Homo sapiens: one gene and its partner. The protein of the gene in region 1 interacts with the protein of each later gene in a pairwise test. Each region holds a gene or a part of one and is shown on either strand. Other genes may lie near its edges. The genes, in order: SEC22C and ZSCAN29.

The links.
Region 2: the proteins of SEC22C (region 1) and ZSCAN29 interact in binary tests that used the Homo sapiens proteins (3 or more experiments, as listed by UniProt).

Annotation. Positions count from the first base shown.
Region 1 is NC_000003.12:42,547,182-42,551,205, reverse strand, and holds the end of SEC22C (vesicle-trafficking protein SEC22c), read left to right. Parts: 3' UTR 1-2,548; coding exon of another isoform or gene 2,549-2,590; 3' UTR 2,591-3,237; downstream 3,238-4,024. UniProt on the Homo sapiens protein: May be involved in vesicle transport between the ER and the Golgi complex.
Region 2 is NC_000015.10:43,357,675-43,361,043, reverse strand, and holds the end of ZSCAN29 (zinc finger and SCAN domain-containing protein 29), read left to right. Parts: 3' UTR 1-2,869; downstream 2,870-3,369. UniProt on the Homo sapiens protein: May be involved in transcriptional regulation.

The DNA of each region.
Region 1 (4,024 bases):
TAGAATGGGAAGTTAAGGAGGGGAGGTAAAATGTTTTAAATGAGAAGAACAAAAAAGCTTTAAAAGTCAATAACACTTTGGGAAGCTGAGGTGGGCAGATCACGAGGTCAAGAGATCGAGACCATCCTGGCTAACATGGTGAAACCCCATCTCTACTAAAAATACAAAAATTAGCTGGGCACGGTGGCTTGTGCCTGTAGCCCCAGCTACTCAGGAGGCTGAGGCAGGAGAATCTCTTGAACCCGGGAGGTGGAGGTTGCAGTGAGCCGAGATCGAGCCACTGCACTCCAGCCTGGTGACAAAGCAAGACTCCGTCTCAAAAAAAAAAAAAAAAAAAGTCGGTAAGAACGGCTTAAAAATGGACTGTTTTCTTTTCCTATGTGGCATTGGGTTGCCATGTAGACCTGTACCCCAGGTGCTTTGGGCATCTGAGCCTATGATCCATATTCAGCAGGCAGTAAAGAAACGGTCCTTGAAGATGAGTCCTTCCTGGTAATGCTTCCTGACCACCGAGGCACTACCAGAGATGTTATCCACACCAGGTCGAATGTGTGGATATCAGTTAACATCTACATGGGGTGAGATTGACTTTTGCAAACAAAAGGGAAAAGATGCACTAGAAAAACAGTACAAGTAATGACCACAAAAACATTGTTTGACTGAAATCCAGCTAGCTAAAAGAATCCTCAGCTCACTGAAGGAAGAGACTGAAAATAGGAAAGAAGTTCTGGTGATTTCATCCGAGGGAAATCCCCAGGCTTAGGTTTGACTTGGTTCAGGGTTGGAGGTTTATAGCCTCTTGTGTGATCCTTGATACCAGCAAACTGGTTCCAAATCCCAGGAGTTATCCTCACTCCACCATGGACTCACTGTTGTTGTAGCACTTTTGTTTTCCCAGTAGTTAAATGCTACCTGTGCAGCTGACATCACTGGACTAGATCTGGGAATAGATGAAATAATGTTGAAAACAAAACTTTAGAGGTGCCTTCTGGTATCAGATGCTGCAAGGCCTTGAGCATCAGAGTGTGTTAAGTCCCATCTACTGTATCAAGGCCAGAGTGTGGCTCCATGCTCTTAGGAAGGGTTTCCCAACCACGGGGCCAGAGCCCAAAAGGTTTCCCCTTCCCTAATATGCTAATGAACGAAACATGTAAATCTGTTTTCCCCTGTTAGGCTAGTCTTACTGTGATGAGAAGTGTACCTGGCTTTCCTTTTCCTGGGTGGAGACAGCTGGGGCATATTCGGGTGGCATTCCCTCTCAGTACCAGAGGCCCCACTGCCTGCAGCTGGAGGCATGTGACCATAAGCTCCTGCTTTTGCTTTTTGGGCTTGCATCCCTCTTTTCTGTGAACTCTGGAGAATGCTGGAATTAAAACATTTAAGCATTTTGATTAAATGAGCTTGAGCTCCTCTGTTCTTTTCTAGGTGCTCTTGTTCTCCAACTCTCCTGCCTCTTTCTACCTCTGCCCTATACATTCCAGCTCTGGAGACAGAGTCTGAAACTGGAGTCTCTGGAGGGATGAGAAAACCATCTTTAATTGTAACAAATGGGGTGGGTAGACGAGCTTCAGAGTGGGAGCAGATTGCATTGAGGTTCAACTCTCCCACCCATGCCTGGGAGTCAAGTCTTGGAGAGGAGTAACACTTGGTGGTCAGCACAGCTCAGAGTCAGAGACAATAGCCAGCAGGCCAGCAAGGCTGGCTGTGTGAGGCACAGGAAGCAGGGCATAGGTAGGGAGCAGAGCTGGGGGTTCTCTCTCTGCTGGAAGATAGCAGCTGCCCCTTGGCATATGGGGGTTGCACACTGCACCTTGTAGCCAGGGCTGCTATTTGCTGTTCTGTGAAGGAGTTGGCCACTCATTGTGACATGCAGGACAGTGGCCTTCTGAGAACCTGCTGCTTGCTTGCATAGTGCAGCACAAGTGAGGACAGGCAGGGGTGGGAGCATTTATGGTGATCAGATGTGCCTGGCAAGCCCCTGTTCAGACATTGCTCACATTCCAAATGTTTTCGTGTAGAATATTGCACAGGTCTGGGGACGCTCTACCTGTGCCCTGTGAGTGTTAATAATGGTGGAGAAAGAGTGTAGCTGTGCCCTTGAGAGAGAAGGTGAGGGAAAGAGTGCACCAGTCAGCTGACCGTCAGCTGGCTAGGCTCTTCACTGAGTCCTATGTCGCAGTGCACAAATCACTGCCCATCAGGCCTCAGTTTCCTCATCTGGTAAATGGTGATAACATCAATCTGCCCCCCCGCCAGGGTGCTGTTATGAGGGTCAAAAGTGGTAGTGGAGGGTAATACTGGGTGAGTCCATTGTGTGTGGGAGGAGAAAGGCTTTACATTCACCTGGTACATGAAGGTTTTTCTGCTTCAGGCAGCACAGCACAGCCATTTCTTCTGGCCTTTACAAAAAGGCATTTTGTTATACTACAGTGTAAACCTCATTTTTTTCACTCCAAAAGGTAGCAGCCCCTCTTCTTCCCACCCTGGACCTGCCTTTCACTCCCTGGGCACAGAGCGCATGGTACCATTGATGTTTGGTTTATTCCAGGATCCAAGGAGCTGGTTCTGCTGGTTGGACCAAACCTCGTGAGCCAGCCACCCCTGACCCAAATGAGGAGAGCTCTGATTCTCCCATCCGGGAGCAGTGATGTCAAACTTCTGCTGCTGGGGAAATCTCATCAGCAGGGAGCCTGTGGAAAAGGGCATGTCAGTGAAATCTGGGAATGGCTGGATTCGGAAACATCTGCCCATGTGTATTGATGGCAGAGCTGTTGCCCACAAGCGCCTTTTATTTAGGGTAAAATTAACAAATCCATTCTATTCCTCTGACCCATGCTTAGTACATATGACCTTTAACCCTTACATTTATATGATTCTGGGGTTGCTTCAGAAGTGTTATTTCATGAATCATTCATATGATTTGATCCCCCAGGATTCTATTTTGTTTAATGGGCTTTTCTACTAAAAGCATAAAATACTGAGGCTGATTTAGTCAGGGCAAAACCATTTACTTTACATATTCGTTTTCAATACTTGCTGTTCATGTTACACAAGCTTCTTACGGTTTTCTTGTAACAATAAATATTTTGAGTAAATAATGGGTACATTTTAACAAACTCAGTAGTACAACCTAAACTTGTATAAAAGTGTGTAAAAATGTATAGCCATTTATATCCTATGTATAAATTAAATGAGGTGGCTTCAGAAATGGCAGAATAAATCTAAAGTGTTTATTAACATGTGTCTTTGCACTTATGTGAAAAATTCCGAGTTATGGATCCTTTGCTAGACAGTGTGATGTGGGCCTGACATAATGGGAGGGGGTTGTTGAAAGAAGTGAAAGTCAGGTCATCTTGTCCAGTGAGGCCTAGACAGGCGCAAGGGCTCAAATAGTCTTTAGTACTAACCCCCAACCAAAATAGCAGTCACAACAATGCCCTGGGGGCTGGGAGGCCTCCCCAGTTTGCAGGCTCTGCCCCTGCCCTGCTATGTGCAGCAGGCACTTTCCGTGCTCCGCGTTTTGGGCTCTTGTCTACTGTGAAGGTGAAGTTTCATCTCCCAGGACCAGCCTGACCACAGAATGGCCACCAGGGGGCGCAGCTGCCGGCCACCTCCTCAGGTTTCCAGCCAAGGGAAGGTGGCCTTTAGCAAAGGCTGTTCCTATAGCAGCTAATAAAATTCCCAGAAAGAAAGCAAATGCACTATCCTCTCCTGACCATCCTCTAAACACATTGGGGAATTCACTCTCCAAGAGTCTCTGCACCATCTGTCCTGAATCAGAATCTTTTGGAGGAAGGCAGTGACTTCCAAAATAAACATCTGAGTTATTGGGTGCTGGGATTTGGTAGTTGATAGTTTTCAGACACCATCTGCTTTAACCACTTTTTTGCTCAGGTTGAGAAGCTGAGGCTTGTTCTAGGGAGCCAGTGACAGTAAAGTTTGGAGCTCTGTTTCCCCTGAGGAGGAAACAAGTGGCTGTCCCCCACTTGGCAATACCCACAAAGAATAAAAGATGTTCCTTCTA
Region 2 (3,369 bases), on another chromosome or scaffold:
TCAATAAATGTATTGTTTAGAAAGTCTTCCAATAGTGAGATTCATCTACTATTCTGTGTCCAGTTAGCTTAGGAAATTCACTTTAGGATTTATGCCACTGTTTGTTCCTTGTTTTTCCTGATCTAGACTCAAATCCCCAAGGCAGTCTAAAGAATGAAAGGAAGATTTCAGTCCCTCTCTTTGCCTGCATCTGAATTGATGGATAACATCTTTTCCCTCTCAGTGCCTATGGTGTTCCCTTAATATAAGCACAGAGGACAAGGTAATAGATCCTATGAATTTGATAAGCATCCTTCTTTACTCATTCTGTCATTCAGCTGCATTTTGACAGGAAAAACCCATTACATTTCGAGAAGAAGTTATGAGACTTTGCCCATTAGGTGGGTCTAGCTCTTTTTTTTTTTTTTGGAGACGGAGTTTTGCTCTTGTTGCCCAGGCTGGAGTGCAATGGCACGATCTCAGCTCACTGCAACCTCTGCTTCCCGGGTTCAAGTGATTCTCCTGCCTCAGCCTCCCAAGTGGCTGGAATTACAAGCATGCGCCACCATGCCCAGCTAATTTTATATTTTTAGTAGAGATGGGGTTTCTCCATGTTGGGCAGGCTGGTCTCAAACTCCCGACCTCAGGTGATCTGCCTGCCTCGGCCTCCCAAAGTGCTGGGATTACAGGCATGAGCCACTGCGCCGGGCTTTTTTTTTTCGAGATGGAGTCTCACTCTGTCGTCCAGGCTGGAGTGCAGTGGCATGATCTCAGCTCACTGCAACCTCTGCCTTCTGGGTTCAAACAATTTTCCTGCCTCAGCCTCCTGAGTAGCTGGGATTACAGCCACCTGCCACCATACCAGGCTAAATTTTGCATTTTTAGTAGAGATGGGGTTTCACCATGTTGGCCAGGCTGGTTTTGAATTGACCTCATGATCTGCCTGCCTAGGTCTCCCAAAGTGCTGGGATTACAGGTGTGAGCCACTGCACCCGGCCCAGCTCTTCTTTATACAATAATGGAAATGCTAAAATGAATGACTCTTCCTGCTCACTTAAACCTGTGCTCAAAATGACATATTTGTCAGGCACCCTCTTCATTTACCTTAAAGAAGGAGAGTTTAATGTCCATCTTGGTTCTGCCCTATGAATCATCTTGTCAAGAACAGGTGTTCTTATGCAGAAACAATGAAAACCTTATACTGAAGTGTGAACCCTGGATTTCTTAGTTTCTTCTGAGTCCTAGAAGAAGGGTTGGAATAGAATAATACATTTACAGGATTTAGGTTGGTTTTCTTTCTGTCCAGTCTCATCTGAATTTCGTCTGTCTCTTGTGGTCCAGAAGTTCCACAGAGCAACGCAGCTGCATGTGGTGACAGGTAGAGCAGTTAAAGCTGCCAATAGGAACTCGTCCATATTCCACACACCTGGTATAGTGTTATGCCCTCCATGGGCACTTACCTGCAATAAGCAGAAGCCACTGCCACATTCCCGTGTATTGGGAAAATGGACTACTGTGTGCGAACAGGCCCTTTACCCTAATGGCAGGGAAGATGGATTATCTTTGGCCAGTGGAGCTGCCAATCTAGACATACACATTCAACTGAATACAATTAAAAGCAGTTCTTTAAATGCAAATATAATTACTCATCTTTATAATACAATAGTATTAACTGCCCATATGCTCATAGTATGATGAGCCCTGTATAGCACAAGGTCAACAGGTCCTCTCCTTGTCCTTACAATCTAAAGCAGATGACACTGACATGGACAAACAAGTGCACATGCATAGTTGCGGCAGTTTTAGAGAAATCTAGAAAGCTAGGTAGCAACACTATGCATAAATGTTGTGGTCCAATGCATTAGTTTGCTTTAACAAAAATCTGGGAGGTATTTTTTCTCTTTATTCAGGAAGGCTTCATGAAGCAGGAAGTGGTCAAAGGAGGGAAGGTTACTGGTTAAATTATGATAGGAAGAACTTTCCATAACTAGTTGCAAAATTGAGTGCTGGGTGGGTTGAGGAATGGGAAAAAGGGGGAGCAAGGTGTTTTGTGTAGATGGAACAAAGGGCAAAGGATAGACTGTAAGGAAGGCCAGATAAAGCTTGGAGTAGCATGAGAACTTGAGGAATAGTATGATATGGGCTGTGCAGCAGGCAGAGAGAATCACCTTAGCTGAAACATGGGTGTTAGGAGCAGACCATGAGGTGGTAGAACCATCATCTATAGTAAATCAGGTACTACGCTATAACTATTGATAAGGAAACAGCTGACTGCCACTGAAAGAATAAGCAGTTTTAGGGGACTAGCTCCTATGGGAGATAAAGGTCAGAAATCGTAGTATCTGATGAAGATATTTTGATGAGCAGGTGAGAAGAAAGATAAACATGGCCAGATGGCCAAGGACTGGGATAAGTAGCCGTTTCACATTCAATTAGAATTCTGTGGCTGGAATAAGATCAGGGAGAGCAGTAGGAAGATATAGTATTCTATAATTCATAGCTTGTTGTGTTAGAGATTAATTAGGATTCTGCTGTTGAATCTTAGTACAAAAAAATCTAATATTTATTAGGAATTAAGGGAAGATGGTACTTCTGTTATGTTGCCTAAGCAGACAGGAAGCTACAAGAAACACCAGTCTGAAGCAGTGCCTCAGGATCTCAGATGATTTAGGAAGTGTGCTGTAATGTCAAAAAAAAAAAAAAGTATTGTCTTTAGTATATCTATGTATAGTCTCGTGGGAAAAGCATTGGTTGTGGTATCAACAGATATTCTGGTTCCAGATGTCTTGTAAGTTAACCTGCCTCCATTTCCCTTTCTGTAAAGCAAAATAATGTTTACACCTAATCTGTCTCTCAGGGATACCATATTAATAAAAATCATGTCTATAAAGTGCCTGGTGTTTCTTGAAGTGTTTATGTGTGTGTGTGTATATATATACACAAATTACGATCAAGTTATGGAGGGCAGGAAAAGACCAATCTTTCTTTTTTTAACTCCTTGTGTGGGTTTACTAGAAGTATGCTTATCTGAATCTTTATATTCTAGAAAGAGGAATAAGTCAGATTGTGGTAAAAGGGAAATTAGAATGCAAATCCTTCCTTTGTACCTCTATCCATATCCACAATAAATTAGGACCCAAGATAACTGGGCATGCAGAGTCTTATTTTTTAAATTTTTATTTATTTTTTAGAGATAGGATCTCACTCTGTTGCCCAGGCTGGAGTGCAGTGGTGCCATCATAGGTCACTGCAGCTTCAAATTCCTGGGCTCAAGTGATCCCCAGCCTCCCCAATAGATGAGACTACAGGCATGAGCCACTATACTCAGCTAATTTTTTAAAGTTTTGTATTGATGAGGGGTCTACGTTGTCCAGGCTGGTCTTGAACTCC